Linked DNA regions of Homo sapiens. The protein of the gene in region 1 purifies or fractionates together with the protein of each later gene. This does not show direct contact. Each region holds a gene or a part of one and is shown in the gene's direction. Other genes may lie near its edges.

What was found.
Region 2: the proteins of SAMD4B (region 1) and CREB3L2 purify together in Homo sapiens (co-immunoprecipitation; one large-scale study listed by IntAct). This does not show direct contact.
Region 3: the proteins of SAMD4B (region 1) and ACTA2 purify together in Homo sapiens (affinity purification with mass spectrometry; 2 studies listed by BioGRID and IntAct, with this or other methods). This does not show direct contact.
Region 4: the proteins of SAMD4B (region 1) and PDP1 purify together in Homo sapiens (affinity purification with mass spectrometry; 2 studies listed by BioGRID and IntAct, with this or other methods). This does not show direct contact.

The regions. Positions count from the first base shown.
Region 1 is NC_000019.10:39,374,186-39,382,188, forward strand, and holds part of SAMD4B (protein Smaug homolog 2), read left to right. Parts: intron 1-1,464; coding exon 1,465-1,704; intron 1,705-2,251; coding exon 2,252-2,361; intron 2,362-2,519; coding exon 2,520-2,606; intron 2,607-3,261; exon of another isoform or gene 3,262-3,299; coding exon 3,300-3,639; intron 3,640-4,318; coding exon 4,319-4,404; intron 4,405-5,780; coding exon 5,781-5,899; intron 5,900-6,401; coding exon 6,402-6,600; intron 6,601-6,804; coding exon 6,805-6,928; intron 6,929-7,439; coding exon of another isoform or gene 7,440-7,527; intron 7,528-8,003.
Region 2 is NC_000007.14:137,993,589-138,001,591, reverse strand, and holds part of CREB3L2 (cyclic AMP-responsive element-binding protein 3-like protein 2), read left to right. Parts: intron 1-8,003. UniProt on the Homo sapiens protein: Transcription factor involved in unfolded protein response (UPR).
Region 3 is NC_000010.11:88,941,959-88,949,961, reverse strand, and holds part of ACTA2 (actin, aortic smooth muscle), read left to right. Parts: intron 1-1,008; 5' UTR 1,009-1,031; coding exon 1,032-1,160; intron 1,161-2,575; coding exon 2,576-2,704; intron 2,705-6,054; coding exon 6,055-6,165; intron 6,166-8,003. UniProt on the Homo sapiens protein: Actins are highly conserved proteins that are involved in various types of cell motility and are ubiquitously expressed in all eukaryotic cells.
Region 4 is NC_000008.11:93,920,487-93,928,312, forward strand, and holds the end of PDP1 (pyruvate dehyrogenase phosphatase catalytic subunit 1), read left to right. Parts: intron 1-740; exon of another isoform or gene 741-877; intron 878-1,529; coding exon of another isoform or gene 1,530-1,573; coding exon 1,574-3,187; 3' UTR 3,188-5,582; downstream 5,583-7,826. UniProt on the Homo sapiens protein: Mitochondrial enzyme that catalyzes the dephosphorylation and concomitant reactivation of the alpha subunit of the E1 component of the pyruvate dehydrogenase complex (PDC), thereby stimulating the conversion of pyruvate into acetyl-CoA.

The DNA.
Region 1 (8,003 bases):
GCTTGAACCCAGGAGGTGGAGGTTGCAGTGAGCCAAGATTGCACCACCGCACTCGGCGACAGAGCAAAACTCCATCTCAAAAAAAAAAATCAAGTTGGATTCCTTTGCCAACCTCAGACTTGGGATGGACAGAGGGTATGGAGCATCCTTCAGAAGAGGACCTGGGATCACCCTGAGTCACCAGGCCTCATGAGTGGCCAGTTTGGGCTCACTGCAGAAAAAAAATGGGAGGTAGTGAGGCCCCATAACAGGGTTGTTGAGGAAGCAGCTTACGTACTTCATTCATTACAAGATATAATGATGTTTAAGATGGGACAGGTTTCTGCTGTCACAGGTCTTCTATTCTAGCAGGGGGTGTAGTTAATAAGTAAACAGGCTGGGCGCAGTGGCTCACGCCTGTAATCCCAGCACTTTAGGAGGCTGAGGTGGGCGGATCACGAGGTCAGGAGATTGAGACCATCCTGGCCAATGTGGTGAAACCCCGCCTCTACTAAAATACAAAAAAATTAGCTGAGCATGGTGGCAGGCATCTGTAGTCCCAGCTACTCGGGAGGCTGAGGCAGGGGAATTGCTTGAACCCAGGAGGCAGAGGTTGCAGTGAGCCCAGATCGTGCCACTGCACTCTGGCCTAGTGACAGAGCAAGACTCCATCTCAAAAAAGTAAATAAATTTTTAAAAAAATAAACAAATAACTTGATAATTTCAGGTTGTGATGGGTGCTGTAAGAAAGACAAGACAGTAATGTGATAGAGTGACGGATTGGGGCAGCAGAGGTGGGCAGTGACTTCAGATTAAGGGTTCAGGGTAGGCCTCAGAGGAGGCGACACTTGAGATGAGACTTGAGGGAGCCAACCGCTGAGATCAAGAAGGTAGGAAGAAAGAGCAAGTCCAGAAGTCCTGAGGCTGGAACAACCTTGAGTGTTTCAGGAACAAAGGGGAGTTTGGGAGGAGGCAAAGGCTAGAGAGGCATGAACCAAGTGGTGGGTTGTGGGAGAGGAACAGGGGCCAGGTCCTGCATGGCCTTTTAGGCATGTGGAAGCATTTGTATTTTGTTCCCACTATGAAAGGAAGTCACAGGGATTTGAGCAGGAGTCAGGCTCGGTCAGATTTGCATTTTTAGAAGGACCTTTATGGCTGTTGTGAGGGGCGTGGACTGTAGGAGGCAAGAGTGAAGGCAGGAAACCAATGAGGAGGCTGTGGCAGTAATTCCTGCCAGGGGTGCTGGTGGCTTGAGCCAGCGGAACTGGAGAAATTCAGGAAAGTGGCTGACAGCTTGCTGATGGGTTGGGTGTTGGAGGTAAGAGAATGAGGTATATCTGGTAGGCAGTTACCCTTGGACCCCAGGTCCCTTCCTCTTGGCAGGTTATGGGGCCAAACTGCCATCCTGGCACTGACGGCAGGGGGATGGTCTCCTGTGGTTGGGTCCCCAGGTCTAATATTTTGCTTTTCTCCCACTCTGGCCAGGTCTCCCCTGCCAAATCCACCCTAGCCCACTGAAGCGCTCCATGTCACTCATCCCTACAAGCCCCCAGGTCCCTGGTGAGTGGCCGAGTCCAGAGGAGCTTGGGGCCCGGGCTGCTTTTACCACGCCCGATCACGCACCTCTCTCGCCCCAGAGCAGCGTGGCCTCCTCTGGCAGTGAGCAGACAGAGGAGCAGGGCTCCAGCCGGAACACCTTCCAGGAGGATGGCAGTGGCATGAAAGGTACATTGGGGACAGCAGCACCAGGACCCTTTTCCAGGGGCTTCTGCAGAGCTTAGAGGACAGAAAGGAGCTTGTAGCTGACACCTGCTTACCCCTCTGAGGAGGGGACATGTCTGAGGGGAGTAGATAGTCCCTGCTTTTAGGGCTCAGGACTAAGCAGAGAGACCCCACATCTACCCTAACAAGTTCTAGTCTGACTGGGAAGGAGCCCCCTGTCTTCACACACCCCAGTCTGACAAGGAAGCCAGGACACAGCTAAGTGATGGAACAGAGGTTCCAGCAAGAGTTTTGGAGCAATCAGTGAGGTCATCCTGGTATACATCCAGCCTAGCAGCTTAGAAGGGTCAGATGTCCTTCCCAGGGAAGGCTGCCTGAGGGTCTGGCTAGGCAGATGAAGAAGGAGCTGATGGAACCTTAGCTCCCCCCAACCCCCTCCCAATTTTTTGCATCTTTTGAGGCTTCCTGTGGGTTTATCCCCACAACTTTTCCTTTACCCTGGTAATCTGGGCCAAACTCCTGACCTTTCACTCTCCCTCCTTTGCCAAAGATGTGCCCTCATGGCTCAAGAGCCTCCGTTTGCACAAGTATGCAGCCCTCTTCTCACAGATGAGCTACGAGGAGATGATGACACTGACTGAGCAGCACCTGGAGTCTCAGGTGAAGCCAAGGGGACCATCAGGGAGGTGCTGGGGGCAGCGCTAGTTTGGCATCCTTGCAGCCCAAGCCTCCTCTGTCTCCTTGATCTCTATTTGGGTACCCCCAAATATCTCAGCCTCACATCTCTAGCTTCCTGTCCCCTTCTGCCCTTATCACAGAACGTCACCAAAGGTGCCCGCCACAAGATAGCCCTGAGCATCCAGAAGCTGCGTGAGAGACAGAGCGTCCTCAAGTCCCTAGAGAAGGTGAGGACCTGGTTTCTGCATCTTCAAGGCCAGCCAGCCACTTGGTGGTACCAGTAGACCAAAGGCCCTGAGTTGGCCTCCAGACTCCTCGGATGTGGCCTCCAAAATTCCCAGCCCTAGGGACCCAGACTTCAGGGACCACATGCAAGCCGGCATCAAAAGGCTCACTTGCTGGTGGCTAAGAGTCTCCCCTCCCTGTCTTTCCTGGTTTGTGGTTCCAGGATCTCTGTCTTTTGACTCTACACCTTCTCTCCCCTTTTGCTTTTCCATTTCTTACTGGTCTTTCTGGTAGAGCAGAGTGTCTCTGTCTGTACAATCTCTCTTTCCATTTGATTGTTTCTAAACTCATTTTCCTTCCACATCTGATTCCGTTTCCTTGCCACTGCCTTCTGTTTGTATTTTTCCCTGCTCAGTGTCTAGGTCTGAATCTCTGATTCTATCCTTGTTGGGTCCTTGAGACTCCAACATTAGACTGGCTTTTCGTGAGTTCTGTGGGACTTCATCTTAATGGGAAAGAGGAAATGTGTACCTATATGTTTGTGGGCTTGCAGTACCCTTACATGCCTTCTCTATGTGCTGGAACCCAGGGTCCTACCCAGCCTTCTGCAAGCCCTGTCTGACTCTCTGTGTAGATACTCTCTGTCCCTCATTGTAGGGTCTGCATGTGACCCCAGCCTGTGTCCTCCCATCCAGGATGTGCTGGAAGGCGGGAACCTACGAAACGCTCTGCAGGAGCTGCAGCAGATCATCATCACTCCCATCAAGGCCTACAGTGTCCTCCAGGCCACCGTGGCTGCCGCCACCACCACCCCTACTGCCAAGGATGGGGCCCCGGGGGAACCACCGCTGCCAGGTGCTGAGCCTCCCCTAGCCCACCCCGGCACAGACAAAGGCACCGAGGCCAAGGACCCTCCAGCTGTGGAGAACTACCCACCTCCACCAGCTCCAGCTCCCACTGATGGCAGTGAGCCTGCCCCGGCTCCCGTCGCCGACGGAGACATCCCCAGCCAGTTTACACGGGTGATGGGCAAAGGTGAGACCAGCCACAGCCTAGCAGGAAATCCTGAGGCAGAAAGCCAAGTGAACCCAAGCACCAGGGATCAAATCCAAGTTCGATGGTGGGAGCAGGGCTTTGTAAAGCCTACTGGAGACTGGAACACTACAGAGAGTAGCCAAGACAGGGTGACAAGGCCCCTTGCCCTTGGGCACGTCTGGGCTGATGGTGGATAACAGCCCTTCCCCTCAAAGCGTCTCCAGGCTGAGCAGAAATGGGGCAGTGGGTCAGAAGAAATTCCATGTAGTAAAGGGTGAGCAGTTGAGGGGAGTCCATTGATTTCTCTCAGAGGGGACCAAAGTCCAGGGGATGGGGATGGTGAAATTTATCACAGCTTCAGCCTTTCCTAAAGCAGCATGATACAGCAGACTTTACACTTGGATCCAGATCAGTCTAGATCTGGATCTGGACCTGAGGCAAGTGACTCAACTCTGAGCTTTAGGTTTCTAAGGCTAAAAATGTGTGTAGTGACAAGATTGTGTCAGGCACTATGTTGTATATCCTCATGATAACCCAAATACCATGGCTAGCACTTAATAGTTGATATTCATCCAGCCTGAGTCTCCTGTTCCTTCTTGTGCACGAGCCAGCTGGAGGCTGGAACATGGCAGAGGGCATACTAGGGGTTAACCTCCTGCCCTTTCTCATGTCCCCCCAGTGTGCACCCAACTGCTGGTGTCCCGACCAGACGAGGAGAACATCACCAGTTACCTCCAGCTCATCGAAAAGTGCCTGACTCATGAGGTAAGGCCTTCCCTAGCATACTCAAAAAGGGAAAGGCGGCCAGGCGTGGTGGTTCACGCCTGTAGTCCCAGCACTTCGGCCACCGAGGCGGGCGGATCATGAGGTCAGGAGATCGAGACCATCCTGGCTAACACAGTGAAACCCAGTCTTTACTAAAAATACAAAAAATTAGCCGGGCGTGGTGGCAGGTGCCTGCAGTCCCAGCTACGCGGGAGGCTGAGGCAGAATGGCGTGAACCCGGCAGGTGGAGCTTGTGGTGAGCCAAGATCGCGCCACTGCACTCCAGCCTGGACGACAGAGTGAGGGAAAGCCTGCCCCATCTTTCTCAAGACCATTGTGTTGTATGTGGCCCATAGGGCCTTACCTGACGTGGCACATGCCAGCCCTTCCAGTCTTGTATCTTACCAGTGTTGGCTTTAGAGGCTTCTTCTCAGAACCCTTGTACACACTCTTCCTCTCTCTCTCTCTTTTTTTTTTTTTTAATAGAGACGAGGTCTCACACTGTTGCCCTGGCTGGTTTTGAACTGACCTCAAGTGATCCTTCCACCTCAGCCTCCCAAAGTGCTGAGATTACAGGCGTGACGATTTTCTTTTTTAGAGATGGAGTATTGCTTTATTGCCTAGGCTGATCTCGAACTCCTGGCCTCAAGCGATCCCCTGCCCTGGCCTCCCAAAGTACTGGGATTATAGGCATGAGCAACCATGCCCAGCCCGTACATACTCTTTTGTCAGCAACAGTACCCTTTCCTCCTCCTCACCCCTCAGCTGTCAGTTCAAACATTTATACCTCAGGGACACCTTTACCAACCCCTCATTTTTATTTAAGTTTCTTTTGCTTCCTGTTCTTCTCCCTCAGGGAGGGATAATTTGTCACAGTTATCATCATGTATGTATCTTTCCCTCACAACCAGACTGTAAGCTCTCTGGGCATGGTCACCTCTGCATCCCAGAATTGCCTGGCACAGGCACAGAGTAGATGAGCAATGAATCTTTTTTTTGGAAACAGAGTCTCGCTCTGTTGCCCAGGCTGGAGTGCAATGGCGCAGTCTCGGCTCACTGCAACCTCCGCCTCCCAGGTTCAAGTGATTCTCCTGCCTCAGCCTCCCAAGTATCTGGGATTACAGACACACACTACCATGCCTGGATAATTTTTGTACTTTTAGTAGAGGTGGGGTTTCACCATGTTGTCCAGGCTGGTCTCCAACTCCTGACCTCAAGTGATCCACCCGCCTCAGCCTCCCAAAGTGCTGGGATTACAGCTTGAGCCACCACGCCCGGCCAGGCAATAAATATTTGAACAAATGAATGGAAGACTGGAAGGGAGGTCTGAAGGAAGCATCACCCTCTCTGCTTCACCGGTGTCCTGCCAATTCTAGGCTTTCACGGAGACGCAGAAGAAACGGCTGCTATCCTGGAAACAGCAAGTGCTGAAGCTCCTCCGGACATTCCCGCGCAAAGCCGCACTAGAGATGCAGAACTACCGGCAGCAGAAAGGGTAGGCGGGTGGCCAGGTTACAGGGACCTGCCCTCCATAGGCCTTTGCTGGTTAGCAGATCGTGCTTAGAGGGGTGATTGTGTTCTGGGCTGAGAATCTAGTTTTATTCAGTCACTGGGCGACTTTCCCAGAAGAAAATTTCCACTAGAATAGGATGCTGAGCTGAAAAACAACACATGTCCCATGAGCAGGCCCCTCATATGTACCTTGCTCCTCGCCTGTATGCAGAGGGCCTGGAAGTCCCTCCTTAGACCAGACAAATAACAGAAATGTCTCCTTTGAGAATTGAAGATTGGAGAACTGTTTTGAGTGGACAGTGAAGAAACCCTTGTACATGTCCCATCTCCTTCCAGGGGGTACCCTTGGGGCAGATGAGGACAGAATGTGTGATGGAGGTTTATGTTCTCTCCTACAACTTGGGGTTGTTGGGGAAGGTGAGGAAGGGGTGGACAGATAGGCCCCATCTATGTAAATTAACACCCTGCCTTCTGCTCTCTCATAGCTGGGCATTCGGCTCCAACTCGCTCCCCATAGCTGGCTCTGTGGGGATGGGAGTGGCCCGGCGTACCCAGCGGCAGTTCCCAATGCCTCCCCGGGCCCTCCCACCCGGCCGGATGGGCCTCCTGAGCCCCTCGGGCATTGGGGGTGTCTCCCCTCGACATGCCCTCACCAGCCCCAGCCTTGGAGGCCAGGGCCGACAGGTAAGCTGGCTGGAAGCAGGGGCCTGGCCTCCTGGGGTTGGGGTGGCAGTACCTGGGATGTCTATTTGCCTGTATACTCTGTGTCTGGACCCAGCTTAGAGGTGGCGGGGGTGGGAGTGGGAGAAGGCCTGTACCACCTCCACCACTCTTGGGTCTGGGCCTCTTCTGCACTCACTACTTTCTCTCTTCCTGGGACCTGTGTAGAACCTGTGGTTTGCCAACCCTGGAGGCAGCAACAGCATGCCCAGTCAGAGCCGCAGCTCTGTGCAGCGCACCCACTCGCTCCCGGTCCACTCGTCACCCCAGGCCATTCTCATGTTCCCTCCAGGTGAGGTGCCCCACCCTTGGGACTCTGCCTGGCCAACATCCTCAGCTGACCTTTCTTTTTTCTCCTGGGTCTCATGTCCACTGTTCTTCTAGACTGCATTGGCACCTCTCCCCATACCTCACACCACTCTGCACCCATCTCCCCCAATTGTGGGGGGTTGTTTTCCTCCTCTGCTTCAATTTTATCTCTCAGGTCTTGCCCCCACCCCTCTGAGTCATCATCTCTCACCCCTTACTCCTACCCCATCTCATGTTTCCCACCCTATGTCATAATCTTAGTGTCTGTGTTGCTCTTTGTCATCATCTCTTTCTTTACAGGATCATTGAATACTCAACTTAGAAGGGGTTGAGGGGATGGGACAGTTAAAGTGTGAGATTTCTGTGGAGGGGAGTCCTGCCCATCAGCCTACTGGGATTCTTTCAGATGCCAGGTGACCACACAGGAACCAGTGGACTTCACCTCTTAGAACAGGTGTTTGAAGTGAGAGGGCTGTTTTGACCTCTGCTTACAGACCATCCTGGAGATGGGAGAGCAGAAGTTGGGCCAAGTGCGGGCACAGTAACTCACACCTGTAATTTCAGCACTTTTGGGAAGCTGAGGCAAGTAGATCGGTTTGAGACCAGTCTGGACAACATGGCGAAACCCCATCTGTACAAAAAAATACAGAAATTATCTGGGCATGGTGGCACACACCCGTAGTCCCAGCTACTCGGGAGGGTGAGGCAGGAGGATCGCTTGAGCCCAGGAGGTCAAGGCTGTAGTGAGCAGAGATTGTGCCACTGCACTGCAGCCAGGGCGACAGTGAGACCCCATCTCAAAAAGATGTTGGGACAAGTGGGCAAAAGGAAGATTAGAGACTTGCTAACCGCAGGTCCCTGCCCTGCTCAACAAGTGAGGGGTTGACTCCTCCACACGGTGCTGGCCACTGGGGCTGCAGAGACAGATAAGGCTCGTCTGGAATGGGCTGACTCTAGAGAGAGCATGGATTTGCAGAATTCATGTCATAAACTGCCAAGTCAGTCAGGAGTCTTACTTGATGAGGTTGTGTAGACAGCCATCTGTTGAGGCCGTGGGA
Region 2 (8,003 bases), on another chromosome or scaffold:
CGGGCGGGGCAGGAGGGCTTTCAAAGCGGGCAAGTGTTGTCACGCGAGGAGCAGCTGGAGTCCTGGGACCCGGGAAGGCAGGGTTTGGGGCAGGGCATGGTCAGAATCAAGAGGTCCTGGGCGAGGTGTACTTTAATGTCTGAGCAGATGAAGGCGGGCAGCTGGCCCCTTTACATTTCTCATGAGAGTAATGCCACTTTGTATTCCTTTAACAATTCATGCTTTTTTCCCTGAGGCTTTTTCCATCTGTAATATCATTTGCTGTTGTTAACAGTACTGTAATGCGGGAGAGGGAGTGTGTGTTTTGAGAATAACATGCCTCCGCCTAGTTTGCTATTGATTTTTTTTTGAGGTTTTCAAAAACTGGACAAGATTAAGTAGCATTTCCTTTTCATCTGTCTCGTATTCTCTCTCCCTCTCTCCCTCCCTTCCTCTTCTTTCATATTTATATTTTAAAAAGTACACGTGTGTGTGTGTGTGTGTGTGTGTGTGTGTGTGTGTGTGTGTGTTGAAAGGGCTCCTCTACGTTAGGGAGAAAGGCGGCTTTATTTGCTTTCTTAAACTGTACGACCAAGAAGTCTCCTTCCTCCCTCTTCGGAGGAAAAACCAGCAGAGGAGTATGGAAAATCTGAGACAGTTGCATATTTAAGAAAGGCTCTGGGGAAGGTGGGACAGCTCACCAGTTGCTTGTTCAGTCTTATACTAATGCCTCAGAGATCTCTTGGGGGATTAAGCTGTCCCAGAGCACGCACATTTCTTTTAAAGTTTTTAATGTCAAGTTTTTGGTATTAAGTTTGCAAAATGAAATTTTGTTTTCAATAGCCAGCACTGATCATAGGACTTTATGCAAGATCTCTTTGTTTGATTCTTATCCATGCAGACGTTTGTAATGGGGGTGGGGCTGGGGTGAGGGGGGACACTAATGAGAAAACCACTGGAGGCTTGGCTGCTTCCCCTTCACGCTTTTTTAATGGGGTCAGTACCAAGATATTTGAAACTTTCGCAAAATGGCCTGCAGGCTCCACCTCTTTGGCCTTTGACTCTGGCTGACGTTATTTTGAGACAAGGAATGAGGGCCTCCCTGCTGATTCCCACCGAAGTATTTGTGGTGGCTGAGAGTGGCTTGTTTAAAAAAAATGCAGAGTGCAGGGCTGAGAGGGAGTGGTAGTTCATGCTGGGGCAAAAGCCAGATGTTCAGTGTGATCTTCTGGGCTTTGCTTGCTGAGCTTGTCATGGGGACACTATGTGGGCAGCACGGAGGTTGGGGTACCAGATGTGCTTCCTGTCCTCAGTAAAGAACTTGGAGTATGTTGTTCCTCAAATATCTTTTGATGAATGGGTGCTCCAGGAGTTTCTACTGACAGGCTACATTTTATCCATATGCAGAGGGGCAGCCCTTCTCTTTTGTTCTTGAAGTATTCTTTCGCTGTGACAGTGTCTCATCCAGCAGCTGCAATGCCACAGCTAGGGGGTTGTCTTTCAGCTGGTGGGATGAATTACGCACAGGCATCTACCTTGCTGTTCTTTGGCCCTGTAGCTTGCATTTGTGAGTTCACAGGGAAAGGTGCGAGATGCTACCCGTGACTGTGGCATTCACTCTGGGAAGAACTGCTTGGACTGGCTCTAACTAACACCTTATGCACACTTTCAGGGAGTAGAGGCCTTACATTTGCTTTGATATTAACAGCCCAGTTTTTCTGTCATTGTGATAAAGCAGGAATGTGTGATTATTTTTCTTTTATTTCTATTTTTAAAAAATGCTTATTATGTCCTCCACTTAGGTACATGTCTGTTGTGAACAGCTCATTCCTGTAAAATGCTGCTCATCATTGCTGCAAGTCAGTGCAACAAACTGTGCATATGAATTACTGTTGAAAGAGGTATTGGTTTAGCAGCACAAATGATTGGGTTATATTTCTCTCAAACTAAGGGACGTTTGGGAGAGGTGGGGAGATAATTTTCCCATCTGTTTCCTGAACTCTGTTAGATATCCAGGGGCAGAGCTGTTTGTTACTCTAGCTGAATCTTTATGTAGAAAAAGGATGGCCTGATTATTCATTCAGTCAGAGAGATATTTGTTCTTTCGATTAATATTTGTGGAATATATAAAGCACTTGGAAACATGAGTGAACAGAAGCAGACAAAATCCCTGACTTCTAGAAGCTTATATTCGTGTGTGTGTGTGTGTGTGTGTGTGTGTGTGTGTGTGTGTAGGGGAACATAAACAATAAACATTATAAAGAAGTGATTATGTTGGATGAAATAAGTGTTATGGAAAACGTATAAGTAGAACAAGGTGAGGGGGATAGAGAATACAAGGTGGAAGAAGAGCAAACTATGGGATTGAACTGAGTGATCAGAGCAAGCTTCCCATAGAAAATGGATCTGAACAAAAATTGGAAGGAGGTAAGAGTGTTAGCTCAGCAGGATGAAGAACTAGAGCAAAGGCCTAAGGTAGGTGTGCATTTTCATGAGACTGTGTTAATATCATGTATTTCAGATTACTCATTTTGGTGAGTTATTTGTCTTATAAACTCTGGGTGCTTCTGAGACACCAGTGCCTGTTTTTGGAATGATTTCATAAAACTTTCCAAGTTGAAGAGAGCCTGAGGGGAGGGTGAGGTTCAAATACGAGTTGTGAGGGTGGTAAGAGATGATGACAGCTACCATCTATTGAGTGTTTATCATCCGAAAGGCAGGGCTGACCACATGGCCTGCCACCCATGCAGTGCCACGGGGTCCACACTTGGTTTGATGCTGTGCTGTCACCATCTTGAAAATCTTAATTCTTTTTGAACTGGGGACCTTACATTTTCATTTTGCACTGGGTTTCACAAATTACGTAGCTGGTCCTGCTGAAAGACATTGTGTCTAGTGCTTTACAAATATTATGCCATTTAACCCTTGTAATGACCCAGTGAAATGAGCCATTTTTATTACTTTTATTTTACATATAAGAAAAATGAGGCTTCGTGAGTTTAAGCCACTTGGCTCAGTTCCCACAGCTATTTAGTGATAGAACCAGGATTCAAACCCATGTTTGCCTGCCTGCAAGTACTTGCCTATCAGGCTGTCTGAGTGAAGAATCCTGACTTAAAGAGAAGGAACTGAATAAGAGGTTGGGAGAGAGTGATTGGAATATAGGAACTGCTGAGCCTGAAAGCAGCTAATGTTTAAATGAGGCTGACAGTGGCAGCCACCAAACCTTCCTAGTGAGATCACTTTTGTTGCTCTTACTAGGGATTTAGTTACTACATGCATGATTGCTAATGCTCTGTTTTAGCAAACCTGTCACATACTTGATTTAAACAATTTAGAATGTTCAAGTTACCCAAGGCTGAGATTATGATGTTTCTCAGGAGCCTTCTGTTAACCGTTAGGAGCAATGTTTTTTTTCATTTGGTTAGTTATGAAGACATCTTGGTCTACAAGGACAAAGGCAGACAGGTTCAGAGTCTACAAAATAATGAAGCATATGGATAGGGCAAAGATGGACTGATCATTAGATCCTGAATTGCTAAAGCTCTGGGCTTCCTCTTGAAGCTTAAAAAATTGTTTCCATACAGATGATGAAATGTTATTTTAATTCAGTGAGTACTGATTTTAGGAAAGCTGTTGCTTCAAGATGGAATACAGGCTAAAATTGGTTCAGAAAAGATGGCAAATCTAGAAATCAGGAGAATATCTCTTGGGGTTCGGTACCACCGTGAGAAGAAACCTTGCCTCTTTCCCCAGACCTGCCTGTATGTTGGACATTTCTGCCATTTGTATTGTATTCCTATAAAATTCTCTGAAAATTACTTTCTGGGAATTGTCTGTGCTTTTGTAATTTCTATTTTATTTTATTTTATTTTATTTTATTTTTGAGATGGGTCTTGTTCTGACACCCAGACTAGAGTGCAGTTGCTCAATCATGGCTCACTGCAGGCTTAACCTTCCAGGCTCAAGTGATCCTCCCACCTCAGCCTCCAGAGTAGCTGGGAGTATCAGTGTGTGCCACCATGCCTGGCTAATTTTTTTCTTCTTTTTTTTTGGTAGAAACGGGATCTCAGTATGTTGCCCAGGCTGGTCTCCAACTCCTGGGTTTAAGGGACCCTCTTGCCTTGGCCTCCCAAAGTGCTGGGATTACAGGTGTGAGCCACTGTGCTCAGCCCCCTTTTGCAATTTAAAGAGCAAAATAATCTATAAATTTTAAAATGTATTTTATATATGTATAAACTGTATCTGGAAGGATGCTCAAGAAGTGGATAATTTTTGGGAAAGCAGCTTGGGGAAGTGGAAGTCAAGAGATGAAGGGAAGCATGTCTACACACTATACCTGTTGGTACTATTCAGATTTTTACCTCGTCACTATGTCTAGAAAATGGAAGAAATACAACTTGTAGGCACCATGTAAAACTGGACTAGAGGTAATTTTCAACCAAGTGTTCTTGGGGGAAAAAGGGAGCTTCAGTACTATATAGAAACTCAACACCACTCAAGGTCAGTGGAGGCGTTGGATGAAGAACAGGGGAAGTGGGAAGGCCCCATGGAAAGAGGCTTTAGGGGGAGAGGTTGGCAGGTGGTTTGCCCATGATAAACATCAAGATCTTGATAATGTTCTCCTTTCTTCTATCTCAGTTTAGCCATCTGGAAAATAAAACAATTTTTGCAATTTTCGCCATGATTATATCCTTTTAAAAAAGTGTATCATAAAAACTAAGTCTTTGTGAAAGTAACAACAGAAGTTCTGCTTGTTTAAAATGCAGAATTCCTATAAAGCCAAGTTATTTGTAAAATCATTTGGTGGTTATGCTAATACAGTTTTATATCTGGTTGGTTCTTCAAGTGAAACCACTGGTCCCAGACAGTGGTAGGTAGGGAGTTGGGGGAATATTCGACCTGCCTGGTGTCCAGATGGAAAGGCCATCTGGCTTCCATGTCTTACTGAGTGCTGAAAAGGAGTTGGCTGATCTCACAGACTGTGTGGTTTCCTGTTCCTCCCGCCTGGCCCGGAGAGTGATATGATTTCAATGCGATATTGAAGCTTTTGGTTTGATGTTCCACTTTGGAGTTAACTCCTAGGGTTGGCCCCAGGCCAGGTTCTGAAGGGGCACCCGGGTCCTCATTGGCTGAGAATGTTATTACTTATGGTCACATGACCTCCACAAGCTGAATAAATGTAGTGAGTTCTAACGGGAGACAGAATTGGGAAGTAAGTATAATTTTTCCAGACCCTTGTGGCACCTTTCAACATTCTCGCCCCTTTTGTGTTCCCCTCCTTTCTTAGACATCAAGTGTTCACTGTAATGTTCTCTTTCCAATTTCATCCCTTCAAATTTTGCTGTCAGGAAAGATTTGATAAGCTTTCACTAGAAATTTTAGTGTTAGTAAGATTTAACATGTTAACCCTAAATGGGCATTTATATTTAACAATAATTACTTCAGGTCAAAAGGGTGAATCTCCACTTGGAGAACCTAGGGCGATAGCCAGGTAGTAGTGGGCGAATATTTGGGGAATGGGAGAGGAACCCTCACTGCCCTCCATTATTTCATAATGTGGCTCTTATTCATAAGGCAGCCTTGTTTATGTGTTGCTAATTTGTCTATGATCTAGAGGATTTCCCTTGGCTTAGCAAAAAATCTTTGACGGATTATTTTACTGTCTCTGAAATTGTTCTCATGATAGTAACATTGGTTGGGAGGTGGTAGACATAGGCACAGTCCTGAAAGATGAGAGGGCAGTACAGAGTTTTATATTTGCCCTCCTTCTCGAATGATCCCTGAGTTACAGTGTTCATGGGAAACAGGGGTCTCTGATGTGACATTGCTTTTGCAGGAGTTATAAGATATAGCATCTAGATTAATAATTGAATTAATTACAGTGCTTGCAGCTAGAAGTAACTGAAAATGGATTCAGATCGGCTCATACAGTAAGTAAATTATCTCATGTTGCAAGAGGTTGTGAAATAGAGCCCCTGGCCGGGCGCGGTGGCTGACGCCTGTAATCCCAGCACTTTGGGGGGCCAAGGCAGGTGGATCACAAGGTCAGGAGTTCAAGAGCAGCCTGGCCGAGATGGTGAAACCCTGTCTCTACTAAAAATACAAAAATTAGCTGGGCGTGGTGGCGGGCGCCTGTAATCCCAGCTACTCGGGAGGCTGAGGCAGGAGAATCCCTTGAACCTGGGGGGTGGAGGTTGCAGTGAGCCAAGATCATGCCACTGCACTCCAGCCTTGGTGACAGAGTGAGATTCTGTCTCAAAAAAAAAAAAAAAAAAAGAAAGAAAAGAAAAAAAAAGAAATAGAGCTCCTTGTTGGCTGATTCAGCAGTTCCTCAATGGACCTTGGTTCTGCCCATGTGCAGCTTTCATCCTCAGGTTGGATGTGTGATGGACATAGGAGTTACAGGGGTTACATTCAAAATGACAACATCCAGAGGAAGAAGAGAAGTTGTCTCTTTCTTGTGTCCCTTTTTTAGAATGGAAGAAACTTTTCTTACTAGCCCACTAGCTGATTTTTCTTAAAGCTTTATTGGTAAGGATTCGGTCATATGACCATTCTTAAGCCAATGGCTGGAAAGGAGAATGGGATTTATATTATCAGCTTAGATTAATCATATGGGGATGGAGACTCAACCAGCATGACCATTGGGATCATTAGTAAAATAGTCTGAGTTAACAATTCTTTCCTTAGTCAAAAGGTATGTTTCTTTTCTCATGAACATGGGCTAGCAACTAGAAAATTTAAAATTCACAGTAATTTGCCCTGGGCGCAAAACAGTAAACCCAAGTACTGTGCCACTCGCAGAGTTCTTTTGTTTTTTGTTTTTAAATAGAGACAGGGTCTCCTTATGTTGCCTAGGCTGGTCTTGAACCCCTGGGCTCAAGGGATCCTCTGCCTCGGCCTCCCACAGTGCTAGGATTACAGGCATGAGCTATCACGTCCGGCCCAGCAAAGTTCTAAGAATATTATTTAGCTGTGCTACCAATGCCCAGTGAAAGAAGACTATAGATGTAGAAATAGCCTCTTGAAAGTGCAGGGAAAGGCTAGGGAGGGGTGGGAGCCAGGAGGAGATTATGGCTATGTCTTGACTCACTAACTAGGAGATGTAGAATTAACTGTATTATCTGGACTCTTGGCGTCAGAGTAGAATACCAGGGCTGGAGGTAGCTAGCTGAGCCTGTAATCATGCTTACCATGCAGGACAAGAATGATTTGTTCTGTTTGGGATCGACAGCAGGTGGCAAGCTAAATGCCATTTTTCAAAGAAGCAATTTTTCCAGTTGCATATGGCTGTTCAAATATTGATGAGGGCACATGTGCCTGTCTGCAGCTAAAACTGCCGGCCTCAGCCTGACATGGCTCTACGCTGTCTGGTGACTCTCTTGGGGTAAATAGCCTTAAGCCTTAGCTGGGCATTTGGTAGGATTGAGGCCTATGGTTGCAGGGCATCTGAATTGTCCAAATGAGTGATCTTATGAGTGAGGGAGTGCTGCCCTTGTTTTCTGCCCCTGTGGAATCAGGATGGAAAGGAAATAATGAGACCCACTGTCTCTGGATCAACCTTGAGCCTATTTCTCTTTTTCCCTGCTCAGTGGATGCACCCTGGCCTTTCTAAATGAAGTGCTAAGGGATCTTGATTTTTCCTTGAATCAAATTGTATAGGTTATTCATGAGGCACATGGGAGAAGATGGGCCATTTTATCTATGGGGAATGTAAGACATAGAGCAGTAGAGATTTGCTCAGCACAAGTTCCTTGAGGACAGGAGACATGACTGTCTCTTCTATACCCTCATGGTCCTTAGTCAAGTGCAGGATGCCCAGAGAATCGTAAGTGCTTGATGCATAGTTAAGTAGAGTGAGGCAGTCCTGGAAAATGGATAAGCTGGGTGGCTTTGGCCTGTTTTTATATATTTTTAAAACTCTGGGCAAGACGTGGTAGCCCATGCTTGTAATCCCAGCGCTTTCAGAGGCTGAGGCAGGAGGATCGCTTGAGCCCAGGAGGTTGAGTTTACAGTGAGCT
Region 3 (8,003 bases), on another chromosome or scaffold:
TAAAATGGGTTATTTAAAATTTTGTTTTATTACCAAAGAAATACACATTCAATATAGAAAATTAAAAAAATATGACAGAACCATGGGAAAATAATTAAAAACACCTATAAAACCCACCACTTCATAATAACCTCAGTCAACATCTTGGTAAATATGATTAATCTTTTTGCAATGCATAAAAAATACATTTTTAATGAGATTTACAATGTTACTTTTTCTAACCTATTACTCTTACATAAGAACTACCTTTTGCTTATCCTCTTACTCTACCTTTTTAATGGCAGTAAAGTATTCTACCATATGATATATAATCCATCAGGCTCACCCTCACTTGTTGGACTGTTAGCTTAACAGTGACTTTTATTAACGGTGGATAATTGCAGCCCCTAAAATTTAAAGCACCTTCTCAGAAAATTTTATTTCAAAGCTTCTCTGAGGGTAAAGTAAAAGTCCTCATGATTCAAAAAGATTTTTCCATTAAACACTTGACCATTTTAACATTTCTAAATTTTTACATGCTGCCTGTCCCTCAAAAATCTAGCTTTTTGAAAAAATTTCAAAAAGGTATAGCATATCTAGAAAAATGTGCATTTGGGTTGATACAGACAGGAAAATCTAGATGCTTCTTTAACATAAGGTAGGCAACTTGTCTCTGCAAAGATCTGGTCTCAGACTCTGGATTTCCCATCTGTGCTCTGCAGTTTGTTTATTCATTCACTGGCTCTATCCACCTTTAAAGTGCTCACGAGAACACATGATATGCCGGTCACTACACTAAGGTTGTATCAACATAGAAGTCAGAGTTTCAGAAGTCAGAGTTTCAGCTTACTGAAAGCTTATAGTGTAACTAAAGTACTTCCAGATACATGCTATATTAGATAAGGGTCAGAGGATAGCACTAGGACACAGAGGAGGGCCCCCAAACCCAGCCTTGGAGGTGGGAGTTGTCAGGTAAGTGCCACAAATGCCCAATTACAGCTGAGGCTGCTTCCTCCCTGTTTTCTATAGAATCCTGTGAAGCAGCTCCAGCTATGTGTGAAGAAGAGGACAGCACTGCCTTGGTGTGTGACAATGGCTCTGGGCTCTGTAAGGCCGGCTTTGCTGGGGACGATGCTCCCAGGGCTGTTTTCCCATCCATTGTGGGACGTCCCAGACATCAGGTGAGGAAAATTATGATTGGAACATAACAGGACACAGATTAGGTTCCTCTGTGTTCATGTTTATCCCCAGATTGTCTATCTCTTTCTGCCCAGAAGTTATGTAACCTTGTTACAAATAGACCTCTAATGATTAAGGTCCAGGAGTAAATGCCAATTTCACATATAATGTAGACAGATTATCTGATGGGCATCTATCAGATACAAAGTCTGCCCCTTTTTCATGTCCTTTTTGTCTAAATATAGTCATTATCATCATCATCATCATCATCAAATCATTTCATCACCATCAGAAATGCTTATACATTATCCTGATGTATACCAAAGCTACTGTTTGGAAAGAAACTAAAATAAAAGTCCAGGTCACTTAACCATACAGGGCTGATGTTAGATGAAAGCAAGCATCGATACCAAATGCAATTTTACATAATATTACCTGTCAACAAAATATATTTGGACAGCCGCATGGTAATTTTACACATTATGTGTAAACAAAGTATTGGTGGCATCACATGGTAAAAACTCAGTAATTTCACCTCAGAAATTCTTCTTCACATCAGAAATGTAGTTTGTGCATTGAGGCTATCTGATTGATGTTTATGCCTCTCTGCTTGGGATATATTCATGAGAATAAATAATAGAAACCTCTCCCAATGAATGCAGTCTGTCTGAATTCATTGATCTTTATGCAGTGGAGATATTCTGCACAAGCCGCTATTTTATGGGTCCATAGTAGCCATGGCTGTTTTGTAGTTCTAAAATAGTCACTGCAGTGCAATTTAAAATCTAGTAACAATAATTTTTTAAGAACTTCACCTTAATGATTTTTTTTAAATGCAGCTGACTAATTTAGGCAAATGTCTTAACAGTTGATTGGTATGAACTTATCCATTAGAAATCAAGCCTCAAGTGGTTATTTGTAGATGCAATGCTTTTGCTTATAATAGTTAGAAAATAATGCTCATATTCTTTTGGGTAGGTGATGACTTTAAAAGTACAGTTTAAAGGATTTATAAGACACAAAATGCCATTTAACAAATATGTAAAATTGTATACATTCTTTCAACAAATAATTATTGAGTGCCACATATGTGCCATGCAATTTGCTATAGTGATGGACAAGACAGACATGATCTCTGCCCTAAAAAAGCTCATCAAGGAACATAGGAGATAAAAATACAAAGTAAAGTTGACTTTCCCCCAACATCTCCTGTTATTTGGAGGCAATTCAGGTCTTTTTCCAATCAACTGCAGAATTTTGCTTAAGAGCATAGTGGCAATGAGACTCAATATGTTTATTGTTGCTGATAATCAGAAGAGGAACTTCCCATCTCAATGACTTAACCTTTTGTGGCTTGGCTGTAATTGATTCACAAGTTTTGGGAGATGCTGACTCATAATGTGTTGAACCTTTTTAGGGGGTGATGGTGGGAATGGGACAAAAAGACAGCTACGTGGGTGACGAAGCACAGAGCAAAAGAGGAATCCTGACCCTGAAGTACCCGATAGAACATGGCATCATCACCAACTGGGACGACATGGAAAAGGTATGGGAGGTTTGCTGCAGCTTGGGCCCTCAGGATGCATAATCCCTGTGTTCTCTGATACAGAACACCACACTACTGCTGGGGAAATAACTGGCTCACATTGCTCAACTGTACTTTTACTTGTTAATGTTCATTCTGGGTTATTACCCATTGAAAAAAAAATCCTTGTAGCCATAAAAAATGATGAGTTCATGTCCTTTGTAGGGACATGGATGAAGCTGGAAACCATCATCCTCAGCAAACTGTCGCAAGGACAAAAAACCAAACACCGCATGTTCTCACTCATAGGTGGGAATTGAACAACGAGAACACATGGACACAGGAAGGGGAACATCACACACCGGGGACTGTTGTGGGGTGGGGGGAGGGGGAGGAATAGCATTAGGAGATATACCTAATGTAAATGACGAGTTAATGGGTGCAGCACACCAACATGGCACATGTATACATATGTAACAAACCTGCACGTTGTGCACATGTACCCTAAAACTTAAAGTATAATAATAATAAAATTTAAAAAAAAAAGAAAAAAAAATCCTAAAATGTTTCTTTAAAAAAAAATCCCTTGCCAGGCATGGTTGCTCACACGTGTAATCCCAACACTTTGGGAGGCCAAGGTGGGAGGATCGCTTGGCCCAGGAGTTTGAGACCAGGCTGGGTAACATAGTAAGATCCTGTCTCTACAAAAAATAAATGAAATTAGCCAGGCATGGTGGCACACACCTCAGTCCCAGCTACTTGAAAGATTGAGGTGGGAGGATCACTTGAGCCTGGGATATGGAGGCTGCAGTGGGCCAAGATCCTACTCCAGCCTAGGTGACAGAGTGAGATCCTATCTCAAAAAAAAGAAGAAAAAAATCCTGCAGGGCACAGTGACTCACACCTGTAATCTCAGCACTGGATCACTTGAGGCCAGGAGTTTGAGACCAGCCTGAGCAACATAGCAAAACCCTGTTTCTACTGAAAAAAAAAAAAAAAAAAAGGTTTAATTAACAGTGTGTGGTGGCATGCAACTGTAGTCCCAGCTACTCAGGAGGCTGAGGTGGTAGCATCATTCGAGCCCAGGAGTTCGAAGCTGCAGTGAGCTGATCATACCATCAGCTGTTGCACTCCAGCCTGGGCAACAGAGCAAGACTCTGTCTCTAAAGAAAAGGAAAAAAATGTCCTTGCCTATTAGGTTTTATTAACTAATTAAAGGATGATAGTTCTGTAGATGAGAAGAGTAGCCCTTTGCCACTGCAGGGAATTAATCATCTGTTGCTCACGTCAACTCTGTTGCCCTCCTAGGACAAGCAGTGCATGAGCAGCAGCTCAGAGAATGAAAACCCTCCTTTCATTTTCATCAGGGGCTGCATGGTTATCCCTCTCAGTGCAATATAGCTAAAGGGGCTTGAAATGCTGGGAGTAGTCTTAAACAGCCCATTCTTGAAAGGTTTTCATTAACTCACTCTAAACATCTAAATTAAAAATGTTTTTGTTTTCACTATAGTAAACAGGAGTGTAACATTGCAGGTTTGGTACATTTCTGAATGCCTCTCCACACACTGAAGCACAAGAGCCACTGAAAAAAGCTATATGATAAATATTTTAAAAATTATTTATCTGTGTTGCATTACATGAGGCCTTATCTCCCAGACACTTAATAAAAGAGCTAATGAGAAGAAGAGCTAAATTCTAAGATTTTGATGTTTGGTCATTAAACATTACAGACACCAGTGATCAGAGAAAAAAACAGAAGAAATAATGAGAAAGTGACATAAAAAATTTTAAATGCAGCAAGATATATCAGAATCACGATATCTGGCCTTTTATTTATCTATCGGCTCACTACTACTACTACGCACACAATTTATCACTTAAAAGAAAAATACATAATGTTGTTAGAATTTATCAGCAGTAATGCTCCAAGCTCTATCTTTCTACAAAAATTTCATATCAGTAGGTTTGCTTGAGGATTCTAGATTTGGTAAGATTGCAGTTTGCACAGAGAAAAAGATATCAATATCAATAGGAAAATATTCTTTTAGAATTTCTCCATGGAGCTGACAACATCTTAGAATGTATCGTCCTAGACAGAGACTATTGGAAGAAAAAACTTTCCTTATTTCTAAAATTTAAATTCAAAGTATCTTCTGGTGGGGACGAAGAGAGAGAGAGGAGAAAGGTTGCTTGCTGTGACTGGCAGGATTTTTTGAGCAGTCTGCTGCTTTCACTCCACTAAAGAAACAAAACTTTCAGAAGTTTCATTTCCCTTCTATAAACCACAAATCCAAAACAAAAGAAAGTGGAATAAGATAGTCTTTAAAGCTAATCTTGGTTTTGCTAATTTGTAAGCTTTCACCAGCAGTTCTTGTTTTGCTCTGTTTTGATTTTGAGTGAATCTCATATTCCTGGCTCTGGTGGAGAATTTTCGTGCTTTTAAAGATTAATTAATTTAGTCCTTTTTGCAATGGTTTGTTCTTTTCGGCATCTAGGAATTAAAGAAAGTGCTCAACCATAAATAAATGTAGTTATGTCCAAAGTACCTTCACATAGACACACTATACACAGGCGTGGGCCTTTTGGAAACACCTGAAGGCCAAATGTCTGACTGTGAGTGGAAGATCCAGAGTGTGCTGATAGAGGAAGCTTTTCTCATCCCTCGAGAGCAAAGAGGGTGATGGAGGCAAGAGTCAGAGAGCCCTGTTCTCTTCTTCATGTACACTGCAAAGGGCAACTTCTCTAGAAGCATTAAAAGTGTCAATTAGGTTTTCAAGTAAGCGTCATTTATTCATATATACATTCATTTGTCTTTTTATTTACAAAATTAAATCATTTTCCCATGAACATTAAAATGGGAAGAGAGAACAAAGAAAATAGAGTTGAATAATAATAACATTGATTCTGGACCAGACACTGGGCTGGACAATAACTCGAGGGTTACCTTATTTATTTACACAAAGACCCGATGAGGTACACACTAATTATTTTCATCTCCCTATTACCAATCATGAGACTGAAGCTGAGAAGGGTTAAAAACTTGCCTAAGCTCACACAACTAAGAAGTGTCCGAGCTGGGCTTTGAACCCAAGGTTTGATCAAGGGTTGTGCCCTTAACTGCCATACCATCCTGCCTCACAGATCTGGGTTAGGGATTCTGCTCAGTCACTTAGTAGATGTGAATCCTTTGGGAAGGTACTTACACACTTTGAGCTTCAGTCTCTGCATCTATAAAACCATGGACACATGCATGAGTACTTGTAGCATTTCCTTTGGTCTTGGTTTCAAGTAGCTTCTGGTCCCTTTTTGGGAAATGCAGGACCTCATGACAGCACATCATTGTGTTTCTCCTCTGTCCCCCAACTCACTAGATCTGGCACCACTCTTTCTACAATGAGCTTCGTGTTGCCCCTGAAGAGCATCCCACCCTGCTCACGGAGGCACCCCTGAACCCCAAGGCCAACCGGGAGAAAATGACTCAAGTAAGTATGCTACCCCAGCACACAACACTGTGGGGTCTGGGGAAACTTCTGTTAGAAGGAGGCTATGCAGCACAGCAGAGAGAAGGCCGGAGCTAGGAGTCCACCAACAGACTAACAGCCTTCAGTGAACTCAGGGATCCCAAAGGACAGGAACAGCTTGAAAGTACTTGCATCCTTCCTGCAGGGACCAGCCCTTTGCCTCCAAAAGCAATAGGAAATTTAAAAGATTTCACTGAGAAGGGGCCACGTTTAAGTTATAATGTCTAAGGAGAAGTCACTTCAAAATGCAGCATCACATACAATAGGAATTTGGGTTCCAGAGTCAGACATATCTAGGTTTGAAAACTGGATCTGCCACTTATCAGTTATGTGACCTTAAAGAACTCCGTTAATTTCTCAGAGCCTCAGTTTCCTTGTCTATAAGTTGGGAGTAATATTAATACTATCATTTTTCCAAGGATTGATGTGAACATTAATGAGGTGAAATGACAGATGTGTATCATGGTTCCTAATAAACATCCAAAATATAGTACTTACTATTGTCATTATTATTACTTGTTTGAAGCTAAAGACCTCACAATAGAATCCCATCCAGCCCACCAGACAGAGCTCTGAGTTTTCTAGTTTGGAAGAGCTATTAAATAACAACGTCTAGTGTCAATTCTATACTTGTTATGGTCAAGTACTGGGCTCAGCATTTTACATTCATTGTCTCTTTAAGTTCTAGCAATGTGAAGCAGGAACTATGATTATATTGACTACATAAATGAAGAAATTGAGGCTCAGATACATTAAGTAATTCTCCCAGGGTCACACAGCTAGAACTGGCAAAGCCTGGGATTGATCCACGATCTTCCAGCATTGAAGAATCATAAATGTAAATAACTGCAAGGCCTTTTCCTCAGAAGAGCTCCTGGTGCTTGCACCAACCCACTAGCACTTGTTCTCTACAGGGGAACATCTGTGGGCCTGGGAATCACTGCACGTCGCAAGAGATGTTGCTTCTGATGAATTATTGTTCCTGTCAGTGGTGTGAAGGCAAAAAAAAAAAAATGGTTGGAAATTATGGCTTGCTAGCAAATGATGTCAGACATTCTGGTTAATAGAGTAGGAAGGGTCTTACAGATGGAGAAATGAAGACCCACGGACATCTCCTGATGCACAAACTTCTCACAAGTGACCTGGAGGGGCTTGGTTCTAATCTTGTCCCTGGACTGCACCAACTGGGGCACTGACATTCTATGTGGTCCTCTATTACCATTGGGCTGGTCCTGTCTTCCAGGAACCAGGGCCTCTCCCACTGCAACCAGAATGGCCTCAGATTCTAGGGTTAGCATTGACCCAGTAACTACATAAAAAAGTGGAATAGATTAAATAGAACCTCAGACAAATCACAGAAATGGGGCTAAACCTAGCCAGCCTGAGCTTCAGATTTAAAAGTTCTCTTTCTTTATACCAGGGAAATCAAAACCTGGATGTTGTCTTCTCTTTTTCTTCTGGCTTTGACATAGTTAACAAGCCCTAGGATGTCTGCACTGGAAAAATGGGAGATCTCATTTAGTCCAAACTCCTCCTCTGTTAAGAGACCTGGAATAAAGCCACTATTAATCAACTATTAGTTTGGTGACTATTAGTCAAAGCCAGGACCAGAGCCAGAAGCTGGACTTTCCTTTCCCCTGGCCAAACCTTGTGTGCACACTGTTTCTTCCCCTCCCCACCCTGTCAGGCCATTGATGTGATGGCTCCCCATTCACACCTTCATTTCTCCTCTTTAACGTGACCAGGGCTGTTCTGAACCTCCTTACTTTGGCCTCCTCTGCCCAGAACAGGTCAGGCCC
Region 4 (7,826 bases), on another chromosome or scaffold:
AGAATTCAGGGAAAATATATGTTATTGAGGAAGAAGAGGGATTTTTTTTCTTGCCCAAATTATCTAGATTAATGATATATTCATTAAATTTCCCAAATAAATGCCCAGAAATTATTTTCAGCGCACATAGTGAGTGATAGGATTTTTTTTAAGTTTGTAATTATATTGCTGTACCTTTTCAATCCAAACCTTAGACTATTATTTGACTATACTGCTTCCCTGGAGCAAGTAAATACCTTTTTTTTTTTTTTTTAATGTGAGAGAAAACATTTTTGGTCTTTTAAAATTTATTTTTAATTTACAATTGACACATAATATTATATATTTATGGGGTACAATGTGATGTTTCAGTGCATGTATATATTGGTAGACATTGTGTAATGATCAAATCAGAGTGATTACCATATCCAAGAAAACATTTTTCTAGGGGTTAATTCTACTTTGGATCCATAGTAGATGAAAATACTTCTATGGGTTTTCCTTATAGCTGCTAAGCAGGGAACATTGTTAGTAGGTAAATTAAGTTCTAGGACTGAAACCATTTATGTTACTAACAAAGCTTTAGAGCTACTGCAATACTTAAACTTTTTTTTTTTTTTTAATCATGAAGGGCACGGTAGAATTCAACAGTGAATAAATGAAACCTGAATTTTATTTAAAAACCTCACTTCCATAAGCATAAAGGCATGAATCCTAGAAGAGCCTTAGATAGCATCTGCTCTGTTGATGTTCCTTTACAGGTTAGAAGAGTGAGACTCAAAGATGTGAGCTGACTTTTCCAAGATTATTTGGGAGTTGGTGGCAGACCTATGCCCGTTAGCCTGGCAAATTGCCACAGTGGACTAGAGAAGCAAGTTTTGCAAGACCATCTACTGGGGTACAGGAGAGAAATACTGGAATTTCTTTTTTTATTTAATTATGTAGAAATTTTTCTATATATGTTACAATGCATATTACTGTAGTCATATATGTATATGATGTACACGTAATTCATAAATACACATATGTTTGGCTGCCTCTTAACATTTTTGGTCATAGCCATGTGTAATCATGCCAAAAATTGACCACAGGTCTATGTAAAGGGTCTTCATAAATGGAAGAAGTCCCTGTGTAAAATGGGAGATTTCAAGGCATTTTTTAAGAATAGGGAGGGAGAAGGATGATTGGTCAGGTAGACGGCTACTGCATAATGTTATATAACCTTCATCTCCTCAGCTTTCCCCAGCCAAATCTGTTGTACATTCTGCACAGTTTGTACTGCACAAAGGACGACAAAGAAAAGAGAAAATTGAAGTTTGAGTATAGGAGCCAGGAGTTCAGTCGTGGTTCCACGAATGATTGGGAGTTGTGCCTGCCAGAATATACCCTGTAGAAATAGTACATGATGTGTGTATAAAATGTAGTACCTTCTAGCAAAGGCTTAACATGTAGATTGACTTGCTTAATATTTGTTATAAAGGCAAAGCTAGATTAAGTATCCTGAAATGTAACTCTTTCCTTTGTGTACATCTGTCTAATTTGCTGTCTAGGAATCCCAGTCAGAAGTTCCAGCCTGCCACTGTTCTCTGATGCCATGCCAGCACCAACTCAACTGTTTTTTCCTCTCATCCGTAACTGTGAACTGAGCAGGATCTATGGCACTGCATGTTACTGCCACCACAAACATCTCTGTTGTTCCTCATCGTACATTCCTCAGAGTCGACTGAGATACACACCTCATCCAGCATATGCTACCTTTTGCAGGCCAAAGGAGAACTGGTGGCAGTACACCCAAGGAAGGAGATATGCTTCCACACCACAGAAATTTTACCTCACACCTCCACAAGTCAATAGCATCCTTAAAGCTAATGAATACAGTTTCAAAGTGCCAGAATTTGACGGCAAAAATGTCAGTTCTATCCTTGGATTTGACAGCAATCAGCTGCCTGCAAATGCACCCATTGAGGACCGGAGAAGTGCAGCAACCTGCTTGCAGACCAGAGGGATGCTTTTGGGGGTTTTTGATGGCCATGCAGGTTGTGCTTGTTCCCAGGCAGTCAGTGAAAGACTCTTTTATTATATTGCTGTCTCTTTGTTACCCCATGAGACTTTGCTAGAGATTGAAAATGCAGTGGAGAGCGGCCGGGCACTGCTACCCATTCTCCAGTGGCACAAGCACCCCAATGATTACTTTAGTAAGGAGGCATCCAAATTGTACTTTAACAGCTTGAGGACTTACTGGCAAGAGCTTATAGACCTCAACACTGGTGAGTCGACTGATATTGATGTTAAGGAGGCTCTAATTAATGCCTTCAAGAGGCTTGATAATGACATCTCCTTGGAGGCGCAAGTTGGTGATCCTAATTCTTTTCTCAACTACCTGGTGCTTCGAGTGGCATTTTCTGGAGCCACTGCTTGTGTGGCCCATGTGGATGGTGTTGACCTTCATGTGGCCAATACTGGCGATAGCAGAGCCATGCTGGGTGTGCAGGAAGAGGACGGCTCATGGTCAGCAGTCACGCTGTCTAATGACCACAATGCTCAAAATGAAAGAGAACTAGAACGGCTGAAATTGGAACATCCAAAGAGTGAGGCCAAGAGTGTCGTGAAACAGGATCGGCTGCTTGGCTTGCTGATGCCATTTAGGGCATTTGGAGATGTAAAGTTCAAATGGAGCATTGACCTTCAAAAGAGAGTGATAGAATCTGGCCCAGACCAGTTGAATGACAATGAATATACCAAGTTTATTCCTCCTAATTATCACACACCTCCTTATCTCACTGCTGAGCCAGAGGTAACTTACCACCGATTAAGGCCACAGGATAAGTTTCTGGTGTTGGCTACTGATGGGTTGTGGGAGACTATGCATAGGCAGGATGTGGTTAGGATTGTGGGTGAGTACCTAACTGGCATGCATCACCAACAGCCAATAGCTGTTGGTGGCTACAAGGTGACTCTGGGACAGATGCATGGCCTTTTAACAGAAAGGAGAACCAAAATGTCCTCGGTATTTGAGGATCAGAACGCAGCAACCCATCTCATTCGCCACGCTGTGGGCAACAACGAGTTTGGGACTGTTGATCATGAGCGCCTCTCTAAAATGCTTAGTCTTCCTGAAGAGCTTGCTCGAATGTACAGAGATGACATTACAATCATTGTAGTTCAGTTCAATTCTCATGTTGTAGGGGCGTATCAAAACCAAGAATAGTGAGTGGCTCTTTCACTGGCAATTCTCAAATGATATACATTTAAAGGGCAGATTTTTTAAAAAGATACTACTATAATAAACATTTCCAGTTGGTCATTCTAAGCATTTACCCTTTTGATACTCTAGCTAGTCAGGTACTCCAAATTGACTTTGCAGCAGGGTGGCAGGGTCAGGAGAGTCTGGTCCTGCCTAGCTCAGATTTCATGGCACCTGCACTTGAAGCAAGTCACTTCTTTATCACAGGTGTCTTGAAACATTAGCTTCTTTTACCAACCTGAGAAAATTAGGATGACCTGGCAAATAAGATCTTGAATAGGCCAAAAGCAAGTATCTTGCTGTGTGTAGTCTCTTGGTTAAAGTGAAGAAACAGTACTGTTCACACCTTTCTTCACTGAGATTCCAGTGTACATGAGAACATATATTTATTGCATGATTTTCTAGATACACAGTCTATGCATTATTCATATACATTTATTTTAGCCTAAAGTGGTTTTCAAATCCAGTTCTTCAAGCCATAAATGACCAAGATCCAAGCAATCTGAATTTGTTTTTGTGATTATTTGACTGGAATGCTTCTTAAGTGGAATAACTATACTCCGTTATCCACCCGATTTCCTAATGTAATTGAAAGATTTTCTATTTTGCCACACACTTGGAGACAATAAGGGTTTTTAGTTTTATCTACTCTTCTATTGAAGTTAAAGAAAGAAAAAAAGATTTTTTTATTTGTATTAATGAAAAGCTTTAGTTTAAAATAAGGAGATCCAGAATAAAAAGAAGAGACTGATCTCTTCAATTATTGTCATCTGTAGCCACCAGCACATCACTCTTATGTAATCCCCAAAGGCTTGGCATGCCGTAAGTGTGTGGTGGGTAGACTGCTGCCGGGGAATCGTACTTCTTATTTAGTAATGATAAGACTTTTCATTATTTTTGGAATTTTAAAGATGACATAAATAAGTTTAAATATCAATTTGGGGAGTAAGGTTTAATATTGCCATCGGGTATTGAGACAGGAGGAAGTTTCTGTTTTTCTCCATTTAGACATAGGTCAATTAAAATATTTGGGTTTAAAATGACTAAATGCTTTAAACATATTGTAGCTTAAGATATATGTGTTAAGATATATACATGAGAAACTTTAAAAGGTAACTACTGTGCATGCCTGATGCTTAATAGAATACTTAGTGGCATCAAATGTTTGCAGCAGTCTCCATAATTATATTCAGTCCCTTCTAATACTGTATCAATGTAAATGAAATAAATATATTCAAATTGGCTTTTTGATATGCATCAAGTGGCATTTTGTTCCTGTGTTTAATAGTGATCTGTATACAGCTGTGCACATATTGTCATCACTTATTCTAGCATCACTGTTAAGGCTGTGATTATGTTTGATATTCACCTGGATTTTAATACAAGCCAATATCAGCTTCCCATTGTGTAATAACTTGGGTGTTTAGGAGTCTTTTCACATTTTTTGGGGATATGAACTAGATGTTCAAGAACTCCTTCTGGACTGTGGATACTGAATCAGTGTACTATTGGCTGCAGAATTTGTTTCAATTGAAAATAGACTCAGGAAGATTGCTGCTCAGAATATCATATAATGTTTATTTTTTGAGGTGTTTTTGTTTTTATTTGTGTGTTTTTTTTTTTTTAAGTCAGCTTGGAACTTTTTTCCTGGGTAGTATTTGGGAGAGGGAAAGGCTGTACTATATATTTATTTCTAAATGTTTTGACTGGGCATTTTTCTTTTAATGAAATATGTGGACTGCTCTAGCAAACCCTATTTTCAGCTACTATTTGAATATTCTTGAACACCACCACTGAAGAGTTTCATATACACCAAATAATGTCTCATCTCTATAGTACAGGGAATATAAAATTGGTTTCCTGTGGTCATGATCAAGATAGTAGTATTATTACACAAGAAACTTGGTCTGCAGTCTGGAAGCTTGTCTGCTCTATAGAAATGAAAATGCAGCATGAAGTTGACATTGTGGAAATGAAAGTAATTGGGTATTAGAAATCTGAAAGTACTGTCATCTAAAAGCAATTGTGATTTTATTGTAATTGGTTGTCACTGTTGTACGGTGTCTAGAATTAAAGAATACATGTAAACTTTCATGGTATTTAGCCTTTCTTAAATTTTTTTAAAATTTAAACTTTCTAACCTATGTATTCAACTTCTGTATTTATATTTAATCAGTGGTTCATGTTATATAATACACCCTTAACTAGTTAAATGGAATGTTGGTATGGTACAGAGTACCATATTGCTAAGAAAACTGTCTTATAAAAGATGTATATGTGTGAAGACATGAAAGTTTAATGTACAGAATGGTTGGAGAAATGCCTATGGTGAATTAAAGCTTCATATCTGCTTTCTGAATGTCCTGTGTTGGTTTTTAATAACAAGATTGATTAGATGCTTCCTATGTGTGGTAGATTATATTTAATTTTAGGACCCAGTAGATACATAGTACTTCAAATTTGTAAAAATTGAGGTAAAATTTTTTTTCTTTTTTTTTTGAGATGGAGTCTCGCTCTGTCACCCAGGCTGGAGTGCAGTGGTGCGATCTCATCTTACTGCAGCCTCTGCCTCCTGGGTTCAAGCAGTTCTTCTGCCTCAGCCTCCCAAGTAGCTGGGACTACAGGTGCGGGCCACCACACCTGGCTAATTTTTGTATTTTTAGTAGAGATGGGGTTTCACCATGTTGGCCAGGCTGGTCTTCAACTCCTGACCTTGTGATCCACCCGCCTCGGCCTCCCAAAGTGTTTGGATTACAGGTGTGAGCCACCATGCCTGGCCAAAATTGAGGTATAATTTAAACAAAATGCACAGATTTAAAATTTGCGATGTAACATTTGGTAACACCCCAACAAAGATATAAAACTTTTTCTTCAGAAAATTCCCTATGCCCCTTTCCATTAATCCCTCCCCTCATAAGTATCATTCCACTTCTCTCACCATAATTTTGCTTCTAGAAATTTATATAAATCATACATGTACTTTTTTTTTTTTTCAGACAGTCTTGCTCTGTCGCCCTGGCTGGAGTGCATGATCTCGGCTCACTGCAGCCTCCGCATCCTGGGTTTGAGCAATCATCCTGCCTCAGCCTCCCAAGTAGATGGGACTACAAGCATGTGCCACCACACATGGCTAACTTTTGTATTTTTGGTGGAGACGGGATTTCACCATGTTAGCCAGACTGGTCTCAAACTCCTGACCTCAAGTGATCTGCCCACATCAGCCTCCCAAAGTACTGGGATCACAGGCGTAAGCCACTGCACCTGGCCCACATATGTACTTTTTATGTTTTACTTTTGCTCAATTTTTGGAGATTCACTTATGTTGTTGATTGTATTCATAGTCTGTTCCTTATTACTGGGTAGCATTCCAGTGTTTGAATGTATCACAATTTATCCATTCTCTATTGATGGATGTTGTCAGTCTCCCCCTGCCCCCCTTTAAAGATAATTTTTAGATTAATAATTCTCAGAAATGCTGTTTGGTTAAGGTGTAGCTTTAACTTTGCAAATAATGATTACAGGTAAGTTTTCTGTTAAAGCTTTGATGATAGGACCCTTAATGCCCTTAAAACAAATGGTGGGAATTTTTCATGGTGAAAAGTTCAGTGGGATTAAGGCGTGGCCCTTTGCTATTGGCCTCTTTGTTCCTCTCCCACTGAGAAGTTTGTTGAGTTCATTAAGCTTGGTAGATGATTGTGTTAATGACAAATTGAGAAAATGGCAAATTATACCTTGGTGGGTTTTTTGTCTTTTTTAAGAGAGTCTCACTCTGTTACCTAGACTGGCATGTAGTGGTGTGATCACAGCTTATTGCAACCTCAACCTCCTAAGCTCATATAGCTTGGTTTTTGATGGTTTGGGTTTATCACTGCATTGGCCATAGCTATGACTAGGGATGAGGAAGGAAGAGGATGAAGTGCTGACTGTTGGGGATGGGGTGACTGACTTGAGTATTTCTGCTTTCATTAAACAAAGTTAACACTGCTTAGAATGAGCTTCCATGTTCACTAGTCAAACAAATACCTGAATGTGGGTTGTTCATTTGTCCTTGGGTATAGCAAGAGGATCTAGGTAACTGTTATTCTCTCTATAGGTTGACATATTTAATTCTGACCTTTTTCATAAATACTAGAGCAATAGCTATTCATTGTAGAGTTTTTCAGACCTTCAAAAGTTACATTCTGTTAAAATTGATGCAGTGGTGCTTTTACTACCTAAACAAGCTGAATAAATGAAGACGTTTTATGGCATCAGAATTGGCTTGTTACAGTATGAAAATCATTTCCTGTTTTCCTTTCAGAATGTACTTTAAAAGGCAAGCTTAAACCTATTAAATCCTGTCTGTCCAGTTCTTACGACAATGCAGTTTATAACCCTGGATTGAATCATAATGCATAGCATTATTTTCTAAATAGCTCTCAAATTACAAGTCTTCAAAACAAATATATTAGGAATGATGAAATTTGTATACTCCATATGCCATTAAAAATGGTTATCCATGGCCAGGCATGGTGGCTCACACCTGTAATCCCAGCACTTTGGGAGGCCAAGGCGGGTGGATCACAAGGTCAGGAGATCGAGACCATCCTGGCTAACACGGTGA